Regions from separate parts of the Homo sapiens genome. Here region 1 is linked to region 2. Evidence: fine-mapped expression QTL. A gene starts in region 2. The other region holds a variant in brackets. All regions are shown on one strand. Distances are from middle to middle.

The links. PIP is the estimated chance that this variant, and not a neighbour inherited with it, causes the effect. A credible set is the group of variants that fine-mapping cannot tell apart.
Region 1: its variant is the best candidate, but not a certain one, in a credible set for the expression of RAB33A in monocytes after LPS (Fairfax 2014, PIP 0.68).

What each region holds. Positions count from the first base shown.
Region 1 is chrX:130,144,158-130,148,550 of GRCh38, forward strand. AIFM1 (apoptosis inducing factor mitochondria associated 1) reads right to left here. Exons shown (of 16, transcript NM_004208.4): 4 at 3,595-3,719; 5 at 3,336-3,466; 6 at 1,322-1,412. It also overlaps a transcript of RAB33A not described here. Among named protein-coding and RNA genes, the nearest start is that of AIFM1, 19 kb to the right of the region's middle. RefSeq lists an enhancer at 2,131-3,330. The variant ATG/A (reference allele first, on the strand shown) is at 2,294.
Region 2 is chrX:130,169,673-130,174,065 of GRCh38, forward strand. RAB33A (RAB33A, member RAS oncogene family) reads left to right here and starts at 2,290. Exons shown (of 2, transcript NM_004794.3): 1 at 2,290-2,648. The coding sequence starts at 2,391. RefSeq lists enhancers at 1,014-1,063, 1,873-2,827 and silencers at 1,444-1,503, 1,674-1,753.

The DNA.
Region 1 (4,393 bases), 26 kb before region 2:
CCTCTTACTTTCTTCTTCTTCTTCATCATCATCATACCACTACTATTCTAATTTGGGCTCTCATCATCTCTTGCCTAGATTATTGCAATAATCTCTGAAATGGTCTCTCTCTAGTCTTGTCTCACTGAAATCCATCCTCCTCACGGCCAATGGTGATTATTTAAAATTCAATTGCCTAAAATGCAACAGCTCCCCAGTGCAGAAAAAGCTCTTTCACGCAAAGCCCTCCACAATCAGGCCCCTTGCATAACTTCTCAGGTTCATCTCTTGCCACTTCCTAACTTGTACCTAACTGCTCTATCAGTATCGAGCTGCTTCTATTTCCTGGCACCAAACATGCTTTTTTGTGCCCTTGTGCTTTTGCTTATGCTGTTCTTTTTTACTTGGATGCTCTTCAGTCTTCTCTAGTCTGGTGAATGCCTCTTCATTCCATAAGATTGCCCATTCTGTAAGACCTTCTCCTCCAGAAAGCCTTTCCTGATGTCATCACTCTACTGGGCACCCTTCCCAGTATTTCCCACAACATACTGCGCAGATCTCTCTTACTACACACCTATGTGTTATGATTATGTATTTATGTTTCTGCCTAATACAGTTAGCCCCTAGAGGGCAGGGCCTGAATGTTGTTTACACATAGGGGACACTAAATGTCTCATTACCGGCTTATCAACAAACCTATATCCATCTTCTCTGTCTAATGTCCCCTTACAGGAGAAGTGAGTATGTTCCTAACGAAGGACAATCCTTCCACTTATGCTGTGTATCTCATCTACTCTGGGCTTTGCTCCTTCAGAGAATGCGTCCCTATTGGAACACTGCCATTAGTTTACACACACACTCTAGTACCTGCCATTAACAACAATAAAATATAACAAAACCATCCTGGGACTCCACAAATACCTGCTAATAACTGACCTTATTACTCAGACACTCACCTTTTAAAGTCTAACAATATATTCCGTGCTGAGTTATGCCCAAATTATTTTACTATGAGTAATACATATTTGTCAATCTTTTCTCATCGATAATCCCAGAGAGAAGTTAGTGTGGGAAAACAGGAAGGATGAGGAAGGGCAGAAGAGCAAATAGGAGAGATAACAGCTTTTAGGGTCAAGTTGAGTCAGCATGCTAACCTAGGCTTTGATACTAGTGCTTTCCCCAGAAAGACACACTCAGCATTATTAAACCTAAAGCAGCTCGATCCTTCTTTGATGAACTACAATGGCAGGACAGACATAAATGGTAATGGAAACACACATCACCATACTGGCTGGTGGGCAAGTACGTAGAGCCTGACAAAAGAAGCGGTCTACTAGCTCACCTTCTTCCCAGTGAGGACAGCCACACCACCATTCTCAATATGAGGCAGGTCCTGAGCAGAGACATAGAAAGAAGGTGGCTGGAAATATATGCTGTATGGAGAAGAGAGGGAGAATATTATAAGCATGTGGAACTGTTATCAGCTTCCCCCGTAGCTTTAATAAAACTGTTTCCATTATCAGAAACTTTAAGGGACGTTTTCCAAAGTAAGTCTCCAAGTCTATTAAATCATGGTCATGACTTGCTTACATACAGGTATCCAGATCAGTGGTTCTCAACTTGGGGCAATTTTGCTCCCAGGGGATGTTTGCCAGTGTCCAGAGACAATCTGGGTTGTAATAACTTGGGTAGGGATGCTACTCATATCCAGTGGGTAATGGCCAGGGATGCTGCTAAACATCCTATGATGCACTGGACAGCTCCCCACCCCCAGCAAAGCGTTATCCTGCTCCAAATGTCAATAGTGCTGAGGCTGAGGATCCTGCTCTAGATTTAGGTTCATTTCAAAGTAAGAACAAGTGGAGCACCCAAAGAGCTGGTATTCACATATCCACCCAAATGGGTTGTCCAGAATGGTGCTCTTCAATGGAACAACTAATTATAGCTCCTGAGAAGACTCTGCCTCAAGCAGTTATCAACTATGATATATTAATATTAATTAGTTAATATATTAATATTGGCTGAGTGCAGTGGCTCAGGTCTATAACCCCAGTGCTTTGGGAGCCCAAGTTGGGAGGATCACTTGAGGCCAGGAGTTTGAGACCAGATTGGGCAACATAGCAACATCTCGTCTCTAGAAAAAAATTTTTTTAATTAATAAAAGGCACGTGGTGGTACGCACCTGTAGTCCTAGCTACTCGGGAGGCTGAGGTGGGAGGATCACTTGAGCCCAGGAGTTTGAGGCTGCAGTGAGCTATGATTCGGCCACTGCACTCCAGCATGGGTGACAGAGCCAGACCCTGTCTCTCAAAAT[ATG/A]TGTGTGTGTGTGTGTGTGTGTGTGTGTGTGTGTGTGTGTATGCATATGTATACATATAAAGTTAGCCACTAACTTAATTGAAAGTATACATCCTGTTTGAAAATGGAACTAGTGGGGGTGAGGGAAAAGGGTAAGTTTGTAAAATTTGGTCAGGTATCAAAGGGGTCACTAATGAGAAAAAAAATTGGAACCCAAAGAACATGGTACTAGAATTGAGATCTAAGTTGTCCATCAAAAGGAAAAAGCTTCTGGACCTGTATCTCCAAGTCTGTCGTGCAAAAATTCTAACACAGGCTCTTCCTTACAGCCTTCCTACTCTACTCCTGAAATTCTAAATGCCTGCTAGGCTGTCAAAGAGAGTGCCGTTAAAAAGTTTCTTTTCTTCTGCTCTTGTAGGACATGTCTAGGCAAGTATAAAGAAGTGATGGCTGGGGGCAGTGGCTCACGCCTGTAATCCCAGCAATTTGGGAGGCCGAGGAAGGCGGATCATGAGGTCAGGAGATCGAGACCATCTTGGCCAATGTGATAAAACCCCATCTCTACTATAAAATACAAAAAATTAGCCGGGTGTGGTGGTACGTGCTTGTAATCCCAGCTACTTGAGAAGCTGAGGCAGGGGAATTGCTTGAACCCGGGAGGTGGAGGTTGCAGTGAGCTGAGATTGCGCCACTGCACTCCAGCCTGGTGACAGAGCAGCAAGACTCCATCTCAAAAAATAAAAATAAAAAAAGAAGTGACAATACAGGCCAAGTTGATCTTCACCTAAAGAAGCTTAACATAAAGGTTCCAGAAATAGGAGCATTAGTATTTCAGAGGCCAACATTACACCATCAACTGTTGGTAGATCTGGTAACAGAATCCAGGACTCTTGCCCTTTGTAGACTGTTATCTCTAAGCTGTACCAAGTGTGGACCACAGTAGACTCTAGTGGACAGCCAAGCCATCCCTCCTATTACTGTACACAGTCAGTGGCAAAATCCTAACCTATTCTCTGTGCTTAGCTGAAGTTGATAGGCTCATTTTACATAAGCAAACACACCTTCTCTCTTTTCCATTCCACTGTTTGAATCGCAGTGTCTTTGTGACATTTGGGTCATCTGAAAACCACAGTTCTTTTGAAAGAGGAGGTCGCATGTACGGCAGCTCAGGATCTTCAGATACAATCAGTACCTTCAGACATAAAAATCATGACGCTTATCAGAGCCAAGTCATTTAAGGGGCAAATGTCAAAGCATTCACATTAGCTAAATGCTTGCAGACTGTACCCTCTGTGCCAAGCAAAAAAACATGCACCTTACCCTGGCCCCAGGATCCCGAGCCCGGATGGATCTGGCTGCAGCAAAAGCAGCTGTGCCTCCACCAATTAGCAGGAAAGGAACATGACTTGGCGCCTTGTCTTGAGGAACTTCCTCTCCTTCTGAAGCTGAAAGCAACAGAACAGACTGGATGAATCTTCTTGAAGTCTCAGATGATTCTTTGCCACTGTTAAAAAAAAATCACCTTGCACTTGTCTCAATCCTCCACATAAAGCTAGCAAAACATATGACCTACGCTAATCTTAACAATCTTCACAGCATCCTGATGGGAGAGGAAAAGCAAGTATCCCTTTCATTTCATAAGTGAAAAATAGGAGAATGATTTCACCAATGTCATTCATTCATCAGGTCTGAACTGGTACTAGGACATAGCTTAAATATTTAGTTACTTCTAAAACATTTAGAAAGTATACATCAGTAGGCTTTTGCCCTTCCCATCAATTTCCTAGTGATCACCAGGAAAATATCAGGCTCAGTTTCACCTTCCGTTAGCAACAAAGGGAGAAAATCCAGGAGGTCAATTGGGGATTATCATACAATGTTCAAGAATAAGGGGGTGCTTTTGAAAAAAGCAGAACAAATTGCCCACCCAGAGTTGTGGGGCTTATTAAAGGATTAAAACAGTCCTCTCTGAAAATTGAAGTGAATCATGTGAAATGGAAGTGATGGCTAGGGTATGTGCTTTAGGAAAGCAAATATACCTTTAGCAACTCGAAACTGCAAAGACTCAAAAGGGGAACAAAACAGACTAGAAGAATTTCCTCATTTAAAAAACAGCTTT
Region 2 (4,393 bases):
ATCATATTTTCAGAAATCAAAGTTTCTTCCTTACAAAAGTAGACTCAGTGACAAGTTTTTGCTAGAAGCTTACATTGAAATAATCTTATTATGTACATATGTTTTTTTAATATCTCTCAGGAAGTTAGCATTAATTCTAGCTGTGAATTGGCAAAGGGCAAAGCCCCTTTCTACTTTGTGTACAGGATGTACCTAATTAATAGTTACCCCTCTCCACCTTAAAGCTATTCTGTAGATAAAGATCATCAGGGGCATTAACTTCCAATACAGAGGGGAACGATCCAGCAAACTAGGCATCAGACTAATCAAAACCAAAAATACTGTACAATGATGATTGATACATAATACAATGAAAATTGGTATTCATAAGGATGATTTTGGATTAGCCAACTAAGAGGAAATCCTTATCTGGGTAGTTTTAATGCTGAGTAGTATAATGTAGGGTTTTAGAAATGGGCGACCCACATATATGATAAAAGGGTTAGCTGTAAATATATCTGCTAGCTCAGCTAATAAACTTATTAACTGGAAGATGCCATTCTGAGTAACTTGGACGTCCTTGAGTAGTCACATTCCAATTTGCTTTCAGGTATATCACTGATGCACTGAATTGTTTTTCTCTCAGCAGAAATGGATTTGGTCATGTTTGTCTCTTCCTGCAGCTCAACCTCCCAAATAAGATGGCAGCTCAACTGTGCTGTTTGAATCCCTGACCTTGATGGCATTAGCAATAACTCACGAGTCAGTGCTAGTGACATGTGTCAGTGTTACCTTAGCTTATGAAATATGTAGGGGGAGAGGTAAAGTCTTAAAAGAAACAAATGGGTGCACTTTATCGTATGTAAATTGTACCCCCAGTAAAGTCGATTTCAAACAAATTCTGAACCCGCGAATGACTTTAGGGAGAAGGAATACTGGTCTTGACCAAGATGTGTGTGATGATTAGTAAGCTTTGGGCAGCAGCCCCCTAATACTGTAAGGAGGTTGTGTTCATTTATCATCTTCCAAGCATAATCTAGGCTTCTGGCAAATTAGACCCAACCACTTTGTTCTACATTCAGCTGCAGGGGGAGGTGAACCCTCCTAGGGATTCCCAACTCCCTCTGAAACTCCAGCGTTCTGGAGGGACTTATGGTTATATGGAGGGCTTGGGAATGGAAGGCACTGTGGAGCTTATGCCATTGTCCCAAGATCCTCCACCTGGGCCAGTAATGGCTAGCCCCGTAAACAAAGTCCCCTTTTGCTGGAACTGCCACCACTAGCTTCCCCCCCTTCTCCTAGCCTCTGTGTGGCCCTCTCCCGCGGCGGGCCTTCCCCATTGGCCAGCCAAACACAACCGACTGCGGCAGCCAATAGGAGCCGCTCTCCTGAACATTCAGAGGATGGGTGCGCGTGGTGTGATAAGGGGATGTTGGCGCCTGGTACGCGCCCCCCTACATCTGGCAAGTCTGTAACAGAAACAGTTACACCCCCTACACACGCACACGCGTGCCCGCTGGCTCCCTCCTCTCAGCTGTACAGGCCCCGGACAACCCACTGCGTGTCTTGGCAGCGGCCTCCCAGGCTGCCTGGGGCCCGCGAGTGCACCTGCTCACTCATTAAGACAGAGCATCCCTTTATCCCAAGGCGCGGGTCGGGTAGAGGGTGGGGGTAGAGGGGACGGGGTAGCGGGGACCGGGAAGGCGCGGCTCAGCTGCCCGCTGCTCCCGAGGTGAAAGAGGTGCCTCCGCCCCCACCCCATCCCCGCAGAGTTGCGTTGCTCCAGGGAGGCCGAAGTGATCCAGTGATGTCTTAAGGTGCAGCTCTTTGTCCTCCCCAGCTGTGCTCCCTGCCCGCTGACCCCGTGCGCTCGAGCCAGTGGGGGTGGGGAGCCCGAAACCTATAACATAAACGGGGGCAAGGAGAAAGAAGTCTATCCCGGGGTGGCGTGTGCCGCTGTCCCCACCCCGTCTCTTTCCTCCTGAGGCTTCTTCCCTCGGGTCCGTCCCGGGAATGCAGGCAGGGGAGGGTGTGGGCCGAGGCGCGGCGGCGGCTGGAGCAGCGCGGTAGGGTCCTTCGCCAGAGCATCCGGTCCGAGGGCGCACACAGGCAGAAGGCTCGCGGCTCGTCCACTCTCCTCCCTCTCTCCTCCTCTCCCTGGCTTTTGTGTTGGTGCCTCCGAGCTGCAAGGAGGGTGCGCTGGAGGAGGAGGAGGGGGGCCCGGAGTGAGAGGCACCCCCTTCACGCGCGCGCGCGCACACGGTGCCGGCGCACGCACACACGGGCGGACACACACACACGCGCGCACACACACACGCACAGAGCTCGCTCGCCTCGAGCGCACGAACGTGGACGTTCTCTTTGTGTGGAGCCCTCAAGGGGGGTTGGGGCCCCGGTTCGGTCCGGGGGAGATGGCGCAGCCCATCCTGGGCCATGGGAGCCTGCAGCCCGCCTCGGCCGCTGGCCTGGCGTCCCTGGAGCTCGACTCGTCGCTGGACCAGTACGTGCAGATTCGCATCTTCAAAATAATCGTGATTGGGGACTCCAACGTGGGCAAGACCTGCCTGACCTTCCGCTTCTGCGGGGGTACCTTCCCAGACAAGACTGAAGCCACCATCGGCGTGGACTTCAGGGAGAAGACCGTGGAAATCGAGGGCGAGAAGATCAAGGTGATCCAGGGGGTCAGGTCCAGGAAGGGTGGGACCCGGGAGGGGACCTCGCCCGAGGCATAGCTCTAGCGGTTGTCGTCGTCCAGCGTCCAGCGCGTGGCGGTTTCGCCTCTTGCTGAGCCGAGGACCCTCGGCTCCTCCTCACCCCTTTTCACCTCTCTCAGCGGGGCCCCGTCCCCACTTCACTCAGTTTTTTAGGGCGGTTGAGAATGGGGTTGCATTCTTACCCTTAGCCCCTGCCTGACAGGTCCTGCCAGGAAAAGCATGTTGGATTCCCATCCATGACCCCTACCCCGAGCAGCGGCACCTGTGGGCAGAGGGAGGCAGGAGGCATCTGTGGGTCCTAGTCTCTGGGATGGATCCCAAAGCACTTTACACATCCTGATGTCTCTTCTACTGCTTGGGTGCCGATAGGCTGCAAAACCCCACTTTGGCTAAGCCTCAAGGCGTTAGAGGGAAGGAAATGATGGAAATCCATGGAGAATGAAAAAGCTGCTTTATTTTAAATTGCAGTTTATAGTTAAAAAATTAGGGCTGAGTTGAGATGGCGGTGGAGTGGGGTGGTTCTGGCAGAAAGCCATGAGCCCTTTTAAAGAAATTGAGGCAGGGTCCAGCCCTTCGTAATAGACAAAACTTGTTTTTTTGTAACAGCCCCCCTGGAATGATATCTTCTTTACTTGTCTGGGGCATCTAATACATGAACTGCTCCTTATTCATTCTGTTGGTATTGTCTTCAGGTCTTTGTAAAAATGCAGTGACTTAACCGAGGGCCAGGGGAATGTTCAATCCTCCCCCTCCATGAGTTTATGTAATAGGCTAAGTGCAAATATTCTTGTCTGACCATTTGTGCTCACCTTTAATTCAGAAAAGGTAGAAACCTGATATGACAGGAATATGTCAATGTGCAGGGGATGGCGGGAGGGAGGACATAACAAGGGCAACTTCTTGTGTCATGGGGAGCAGAGGGGGGCCTCTATAAAGGCACTGGGATCACTGAAGACAACTCCTCTAGGCTCACAGCTGGCCTTTCCTTGAGCGTATGGTTGGACCTTAGACAGAGTCAGGGGTGACAGTAAGCCTCCTTCTTGCTGGTCAAACTGCCAAAGTGACCACAAGGCCCCTCCTCTGAGTGACGTGGAGAGAAGGGCTGAGTAACTGATGAAACTGATGAAACACTTGAAACTGTGCGAGACTCCTGACTCCTTGATTATTAAAATGAACGTGTTCTAAAAATGGCTTCAGAAACTAGGCCAACTCACTAGATGTCAGGAAGATGGACAGCTCAGTACTGATAAGGGAGAGCCCCAGGGTAGGAAGATAGAACATTATTTTGAAATCGTGATCTTTTTTGCCCCTTGCATTTTGGAAGGGAAGTGCTACATTTCCTTTTAAAGTCAAAGGCGGTATCTGTCTCTGTCCTTTCCTGGGGCTGTTGACATTTGCTTGGTTAAGACTTCCTCTAGTGTGTCTAGCTTCTTTAATGTAAGGCTATAAGATTCTAGAATTTCTAAAACATGACTTTGTAATCCAAAGTAGAAATATCTTTACAGATGGGCTCTTAAACCTCAAAAACCTAATGCTCCCATTTGCTTAAAATCAAGTGCTACAGTGAGCCAAAGAGTTCCCTGGATTTAAAAGGTGGGAAATAAGTCCATCTGAAATTTAGATGGAAAAAATGAAGTGTTTGGGAATCTAAAGAAGGAGGGAGGAAGAAGCTAGAAAGTGAGGGATGACAGATGAACACG